2 linked regions of the Homo sapiens genome follow. The protein of the gene in region 2 interacts with the protein of the main gene of each other region in a biochemical or structural test. Each region holds a gene or a part of one and is shown on either strand. Other genes may lie near its edges.

Region 1 (3,500 bases), on a different chromosome or scaffold from region 2:
ATGGCGTGGCAGAGGGAAGGAATGTGGCATGTGGGGAGAGGAGAAGGCTGTGAGCACTCATAGGGAGAATCAGGCCTGTCTGGGAAAAGTGCTCACATGGGGCACAATGGGGCTCATAAGGATTGCTGGGAGAATGCTGCAAAGGTAAGTTGTATCAATTTCACATACAGATGACACAGTCTTATTTCTTCATTAACAACCCCCAAGACTATGACACACAAAAAAATTACATAATGTCTGTAACTTTCATCTTAGAATTTTTAGGAGCTCAGTTAGGATGCAAAGCTCATCAAAGCACCAGGAACCTTCTTAATATCACAATGCTTGAATAACCTAAATGTGCCATCATGCACTTCAGCTCATGTACCAGGATGCTGAAAAGTGAACCTAAAAGACAGCTCATTCTGTTTTTTACAAGCAAAAGGAAGCTTACAGAAACTGGATGACTTTTTCAGTTTCCAAATTACTGTGTAGTGTTGCCTCTATTTGAAACCAGGTCTTTGATCTTAAATTCACTATGCTTGTAAGTACTTAAACATATAAAGTGTGTGTACTACCTACATAAATGAACTATTTCCCCCTTTTGCAACATTTGGAAAGATCAATTTTGCAATATGGGAGGAAGTAATAAACAGTTATAAAAAATAGTATATTGCTAGGCGCGGTGGCTCACGCCTGTAATCCCAGCACTTTGGGAGGCCGAGGCAGGCGGATCACGAGGTCAGGAGATCGAGACCATCCTAACACAGTGAAACCCCGTCTCTACTAAAAATACAAAAAATTAGCCAGGCGTGGTGGTGGGTGCCTGTAATCCCAGCTACTCAGGAGGCTGAGGCAGGAGAATGGCGTGAATCCGGGAGGTGGAGCTTGCAGTGAGCCGAGATCGCGCCACTGCAGTCCAGCCTGGGGGACACAGCGAGACTCCGTCTCACAAAAAAAAAAAAAAGAAAAGTTTATTATTCTTAGGCCCAGCATGGTGGCTTGCGCCTGCAATCCTAACACTTTGGGAGGCAGAGGCTGGCGCATCACTTGAGGTCAGGATTTCAAGACCAGCCTGGCCAACACGGTGAAACTCTGTCTCTACTAAAAATACAAAAATTAGCCGGAGTGGTTGTGGGCACCTGTAATCCCAGCTAATAGGGAGGCTGAAGCAGGAGAATCGCTTGAACCCAGAAGCACAGGCCACAGGCTGCAGTAAGCCGAGATCAAGCCACTGCACTCCAGCCTGGGCAAGAGAGCCAGGCTCTGTCTCAAAACAAGGAAGAGAACAGTATGTTATTCGTAACAAAATAATTAATATTTTAAAGGAGATGATTGGTCAGTTACATTAATGCTGTGGGCTACAGGCACAGTAAGCCTTTTTTCAGCAGGGTTACCTCGATGAGAGCCTGGCTGGCTTCCTCACTTAGCCGCGGCATGATGGTGCTGTGCGCGTAGGCAATGTAGTCCTTTAGCACCGCCATGTCCAGGAGCTCCTCCTCTGCCTGCTCCTCGCTCTGGTAGTACAGTGCGACCAGGTGGTGAGCCAGACGCCTGTCATAGGCTTCGTCCTGAGGGTCCAGCAAGAGGAAGATCAAATCAAACCTAAGAAAACAAAGTAAAAATACTGTTTTTCCAGCACCTTGTGAGGCCGAGGCAGGTGGATCACCTGAGGTTGGTAGTTTGAGACCAGCCTGGCCAACACGGTGAAACCTTGTCTCTACTAAAAATGCAACAATTAGCCAGGAGTGGTGGTGCCTGCCTGTAATCCCAGCTACTTGGGAGGCTGAAGCAGGAGAATCGCTTGAACCTGGAAGGCGAAGGTTGCGGTGAGCCAAGTTCGCGTCACTGCACTCCAGCCTGGCCGACAGAGGGAGACTCTGTCTCAAAAAAACAAACAAAAAAACCCAAAACAACAACAAAAAAACTGTTTTCCTAGTTGAGACACCAATACACCTACAAACGACGTACTAAAGACTGCTTGAGCACCACAGATGTGCAGTCAATGTGCACCCTGTGAGCGCCATCAGGGAGAAGCATCTTTGCCTGGTGTGGAAAGGGCCTTCGTGTCCATCCACTCACCCCACTCACCCTGTGCTGTCCCTAGTCCTTAGGTCGGCCCAGGGAACGGCTGGGGACCAATCAGCTGAGTCAAAGGAAGTCTTCCCTTAGGGAAACGTTACTATAATTTTGACGATGGAAAGTTTTTTTTTTTTTTTTTTTTTTGAGACAGAGTCTCACTCTGTAGCCCAAGCTAGAGTGAAGTGGTATGATCTCAGCTCACTGCAATCTCCACTCCCCCAGGCTCAAGCAATTCTTGTGCCTCCTCAGCCTCCCGAGTAGCTGGGATTACAGGCATGCGCCGCCACGCCGGGCTAATTTTTTGTATTTTAGTAGAGATGGGGTTTCATCAAGTTGCCCAGGGTGGCCTCAAACTCCTGAGCTCAGGCGATCCACCCACCTCAGCCTCCCAAAGTGCTGGAATTACAGGTGTGAGTCACTGTACCTGGCTGACAATGGAAAGATTTGAATGAAAACACATTCAACTGTTTTTTTGGGAAAAAAAACTTCTGTCAAAAAAAAAGAAAAAAAAGCAAGTAATTAAAACCTAAAATCCATTTATGAAAAATGTCCAATATTTGTAGTGGGGCCAAGAGTGAAGATTATGTGATTGCACTTTAATAAATCTAACTTTTCAGAGCCTCATCTACTGTACGGAATTGTTCTCTGTTGACTCTCAGCAGTGGCTTTAGGACTAAGAGTAGTGAGTGACAGCCATGTGTAAACGGCGTGGGAGGTAAACATCCCAACTGCTTAAAAAACAAATGAGAACACACATCATCCTTGTCGTGAAAACTCTTGACCAACCAAATTTGAAACATCTTGATAAGAGTGAAGAGTTTCCATTAGCAGTTGCTGAAATCTTAGTAGCTCCTTTTCAATCTCACCCTGAATATTCTACAAATGAACAAAATAAAAATCTGTTTTAATACCTTGATAATAAAGTATGAGGCAGCTGGATGTTTTCAATGGTTGTTTTTTTAGGATTCCACTGAGACTCAATGGGATTTGCTGCTGCCAGGACAGAGGTGCGCGCATTGAGCTGACAGATGATCCCAGCCTATCAGAGCAAAGAGTGCAGTTAGAAGCCTCTCCCTGACGCTGGCAATTAACAAGCACCGTCTTCGCCCGGCCACCTACTAAACCCATATTCCCTCCACTGAGTTTCTATTGCCTGAGCCATGTTGCCTTTACTGACTTCAGCAGTTCACCTGGATAAGCCCTGTCCTCAGATTCATGCCAAGGACTGAGTTTAGATGAATGTGTGCTATAACCACATCTTTCTCAGGAAGCAGGCACCTTGCAAGAGCTTTAGGACAAATTCAAGGCTAGTACAGCAATAAAGACAAAACGTGACACCCTGTAGAAGACATGTTGAGATTTAGCTGAAATATGATGTGGAAAGCACTTATCAATCTCCCCAAGTTAGAACCAAGGTAGCACAGCACAGTTCCACAGAC
Region 2 (3,500 bases):
TTTTTGCAGTGGTTCTTAAACACCCATAGTTTCTTAGTCAGAATCACTTGCTTTTTCAAACTAACAAGGCTGGAGCCTTCCTAAGTATCTTGTTTTTCTGAATCATATTTTCCAAGAATAGGCTGAGTGGGCAGGCATATGTATTTCTTAAAGATTCTCAGATAATTCTGACATGCAACTCTGGTTAAGACCCACTGATCCTGGGGTTGAGCACAAGACAGCCCAGCTACTCTTGAGGTAGGCTGGCTGAAACTTTGTCTCCTGAGGTGTTCTGTATTGTATGGTAGTAAGCTGAGTCAATCCCACTTATTCCTTGGAAAGTATTAACTATAACTGAGCGTGGAAAATAAACATTAAATGGGCACTTGAGTTCAGATTGTTGGCCAGAGCAAGGCTGAGATAATTCTTATGTGCCCTATGAAGTACACTGCACATCCCAGTCTTGAAGAACTTGCGTGGCTAAGGAGATGACATCCAAGTCCAATATATGCTTACAATAATATCCCATCAGTTAAGGCCTTCTATGCATTCTGCTTCTCTGCTACCGTAAACCTACACAACCTGACAACACACATTTCCATTCTCTTCCCTAGTCCTTATTACACTGTATTAATAATTAACTGTTTACTTGTTAGTATAGCCTAAGATCATTTAAGGCAAGGACACTCTAAGTACCAAGACATAGTGCATCTGATGTTTAAAAGACAATAAAAAAGTAAAACATATTACAAAGTAAAACATGCCTTTAATAAAAGGTAAATTTATGTAATAAAAGTCAAACCATAACTAAAAGGAGTTAAGATTTTACTCCTTATTCTTATAAAATTATAAAGGTAAACTTTAAATACTGCAACAGTGTATTACTTTGTGCTTAATAAGATTAAATGATTATATGTATAGAGAGGTGATAAATTTATTTTCAAGCAACTGAAGAATTTTCTACTTAATATTAGAGAACTTTATCAAGACTGAATGTTTATTTGTAAAGAAAATTTCACAATAATTTATTAAGTGATTTGTAGGAGATAATCAAAGGCATTTTGTTTGGTTCTATAATACAAAACTGCTTACCAAAAGTTTTAGCAGCTTGGATAGTTTCTCTGGATCCCCTAATTGTCATAATTTGGGCCAAAGCAGTTAAATCATCACTTGCTTTATAAAATGGATATCGTCCACTAAGCAAAGAAAGAAATATGACACCTGCAGACCACATGTCAATTGCTGCAACAGAAGACAAATTTTAAAAATAAATTTCAAATCTATAATTTTATCATCTAAATCAATAGTCCTCAACATTTATTATGCATTAGAATCACCTTGGGAGCCTTAAAAATTTCAGATGCCCAGACCCAAAGATTTTGATTGAACAGTTCTGAAGTAGGGCTCAGGCATCAATGTTTTAAAAAAGTTCCTCAGGTGATTTTAATGTACAACCAGGACTGAGAATCCTCACTGCAAAATATGTTTTCTTTCTTGAGCAACGTGTTGGTAAATTTAAAAGGATATTTAATCACTAGGAAACACTAAGTAAACGCACATTTTATAGGATCAAAAGGAATCCAAAAATAGCTATGTGGGAAAAAATCTGAATGATCCTTGAGAATTACATACCATACTGGTCAAAGTGCTTTCATTTTAGTGAAAAGTAATGAACATTAGAAGCTCTTCTTCAGCTGACACTAGCACCAACTACTGCTATAGAAACTTTTAAAAAATTACTTTTTTATTTTTTTGTGACTGTGAAGACTTTAATTTTTCTGAGTACACAGTAGGTGTATATATTGATGGGGTATATAAGATGTTTTGATACAGGCATGCAGTGTGTAATAATCACATCCTGGAAAACAGGGTATCCATTCCCTCAAGCATTTATCCTTTGTGTTACGAACAATCCAATTATATTCTTTTCTTTTTTTCTTTTTGAGACAAGGTCTCCCTCTGTGGCCCAGACTAGAGTGCAGTGGCACAGTCTCAGCTCACTGCAATCTCTGCCTCCCAGGTTCAAGCAATTCTCATGCTTCAGCCTCTTGAGTAGCTGGGATTACAGGCATGTCACCATGCCCAGCTCTTTTTTTTTTTTTTTTTTTTTTTTTTGTATTTTTAGTAGAGACGAGGTTTTGCCACATTGGCCAGGCTGGTCTCAAGCTCCTGGGCTCAAGTGATCTGCCTGCCTCAGCCCCTCAAAGTACTCTTTTAGTTATTTTAAACTGCACAATTAAATTACTGACTATAATCCCCCTGCTGTGCTATCAAATACTAGGTCTTAATTCATTCTTTTTTTTTTTTTTTCGAGATGGGGTCTGGCTCTGTTACCCAGGCTAGAGTGTGGTAGTGTGATCTCGGCTCACTGCAACCTCCGCCTCCCAGGCTCAAGTGATCCTCCCACCTCAGCCTCCTGAGTAGCTGGGACCACAGATGCACACTACCACATCCAGCTACTTTTTTGTATTTTTGGTAGAAATAGGGTTCTACCATGTTGCCCAAGCTGGTCTCGAGTGCCTGAGCTCAAGCAATCCACCTGCCTTGGCCTCCCAAAGTGCTGGATAATTCATTCTTTATAACTATTTTTTGTACCCATCAGCTGTCCCCACATCCCCCACACCCTCCCACCACCCTTCTCAGCCTCTGGTAACCATCTTTCTGCTCTCTATGGGTTCAATTGTTTTAATTTTTAGATCCCACAAATTAGTGAGAACATGCAACTCTTGTCTTTCGGTGCCTGGCTTATTTCACCTGACATAATGATCTCCAGTTCCATCCATGTTGTTGCAAATGACAAGATCTTCTTTTTCGTGGCTGAATAGTACTTCCATTGTGTGTAAGTACCACATTTTCTTTATCCATTCATCTGTTGACGGACACTTAGGTCGCTTTCAAATTTTGGCTATTATGAATAGTGCTTCAACAAACATGGGAGTGCAGATACCTCTTCGGTACATTGATTTCCTTTCTTTTGGGTATATACCCAGCAGTGGGATTGTTGGATCATGTAGTAGCTCTATTTTTAGTTTTTTGAGGAACGTCCAAATTGTTTTCCATAGTGGTTGTACTAATTTACATTCCCACTATAGAAACTTTAATCTTCTGAATTCTGGTAGTTAAAGATTACGACTAGCTCAACTTGATGTTAAAAAGCTCTTTTTTTTTTTTCTTAAAGTTGACATCTCTCTTAATTGTTGACTTCCTAGTATCACCAGGTTATCTGCTCTCTGTTCCTTGGGCTACTGTATCACCTTTTTTTTTTTTTTTTTTTTTTTGAGACTGAGTCTCACTCTGTTGCTCAGGCTGGAGTGCAATGGTGCGATCTTGGCTCACTGTAACCTCTGCCTCCCGGGTTCAATTCTCCTGCCTCAGCCTCCCCAGTAGCTGGAACTACAGGTGTGTGCCACCATGCCCTGCTAATTTTTTGTACTTTTTAGTAGAGACGGGATTTCGCCATATTGGCCAGGCTGATCTCGAACTCCTGACCTAGTGATCTGCCTGCCTTGGCCTCCCAAAGT

What was found. Proteins that work in one complex are often made in the same cells at the same time.
Region 1: of the proteins of CDC7 (region 2) and MCM4, one has a biochemical effect on the other in vitro, tested with the Homo sapiens proteins (2 studies listed by BioGRID).

What each region holds. Positions count from the first base shown.
Region 1 is NC_000008.11:47,970,941-47,974,440, reverse strand, and holds part of MCM4 (DNA replication licensing factor MCM4), read right to left. Parts: intron 3,101-3,500; coding exon 2,973-3,100; intron 1,585-2,972; coding exon 1,377-1,584; intron 1-1,376. UniProt on the Homo sapiens protein: Acts as a component of the MCM2-7 complex (MCM complex) which is the replicative helicase essential for 'once per cell cycle' DNA replication initiation and elongation in eukaryotic cells.
Region 2 is NC_000001.11:91,517,851-91,521,350, reverse strand, and holds part of CDC7 (cell division cycle 7-related protein kinase), read right to left. Parts: intron 2,819-3,500; exon of another isoform or gene 2,676-2,818; intron 1,222-2,675; coding exon 1,072-1,221; intron 1-1,071. UniProt on the Homo sapiens protein: Kinase involved in initiation of DNA replication. Phosphorylates critical substrates that regulate the G1/S phase transition and initiation of DNA replication, such as MCM proteins and CLASPIN.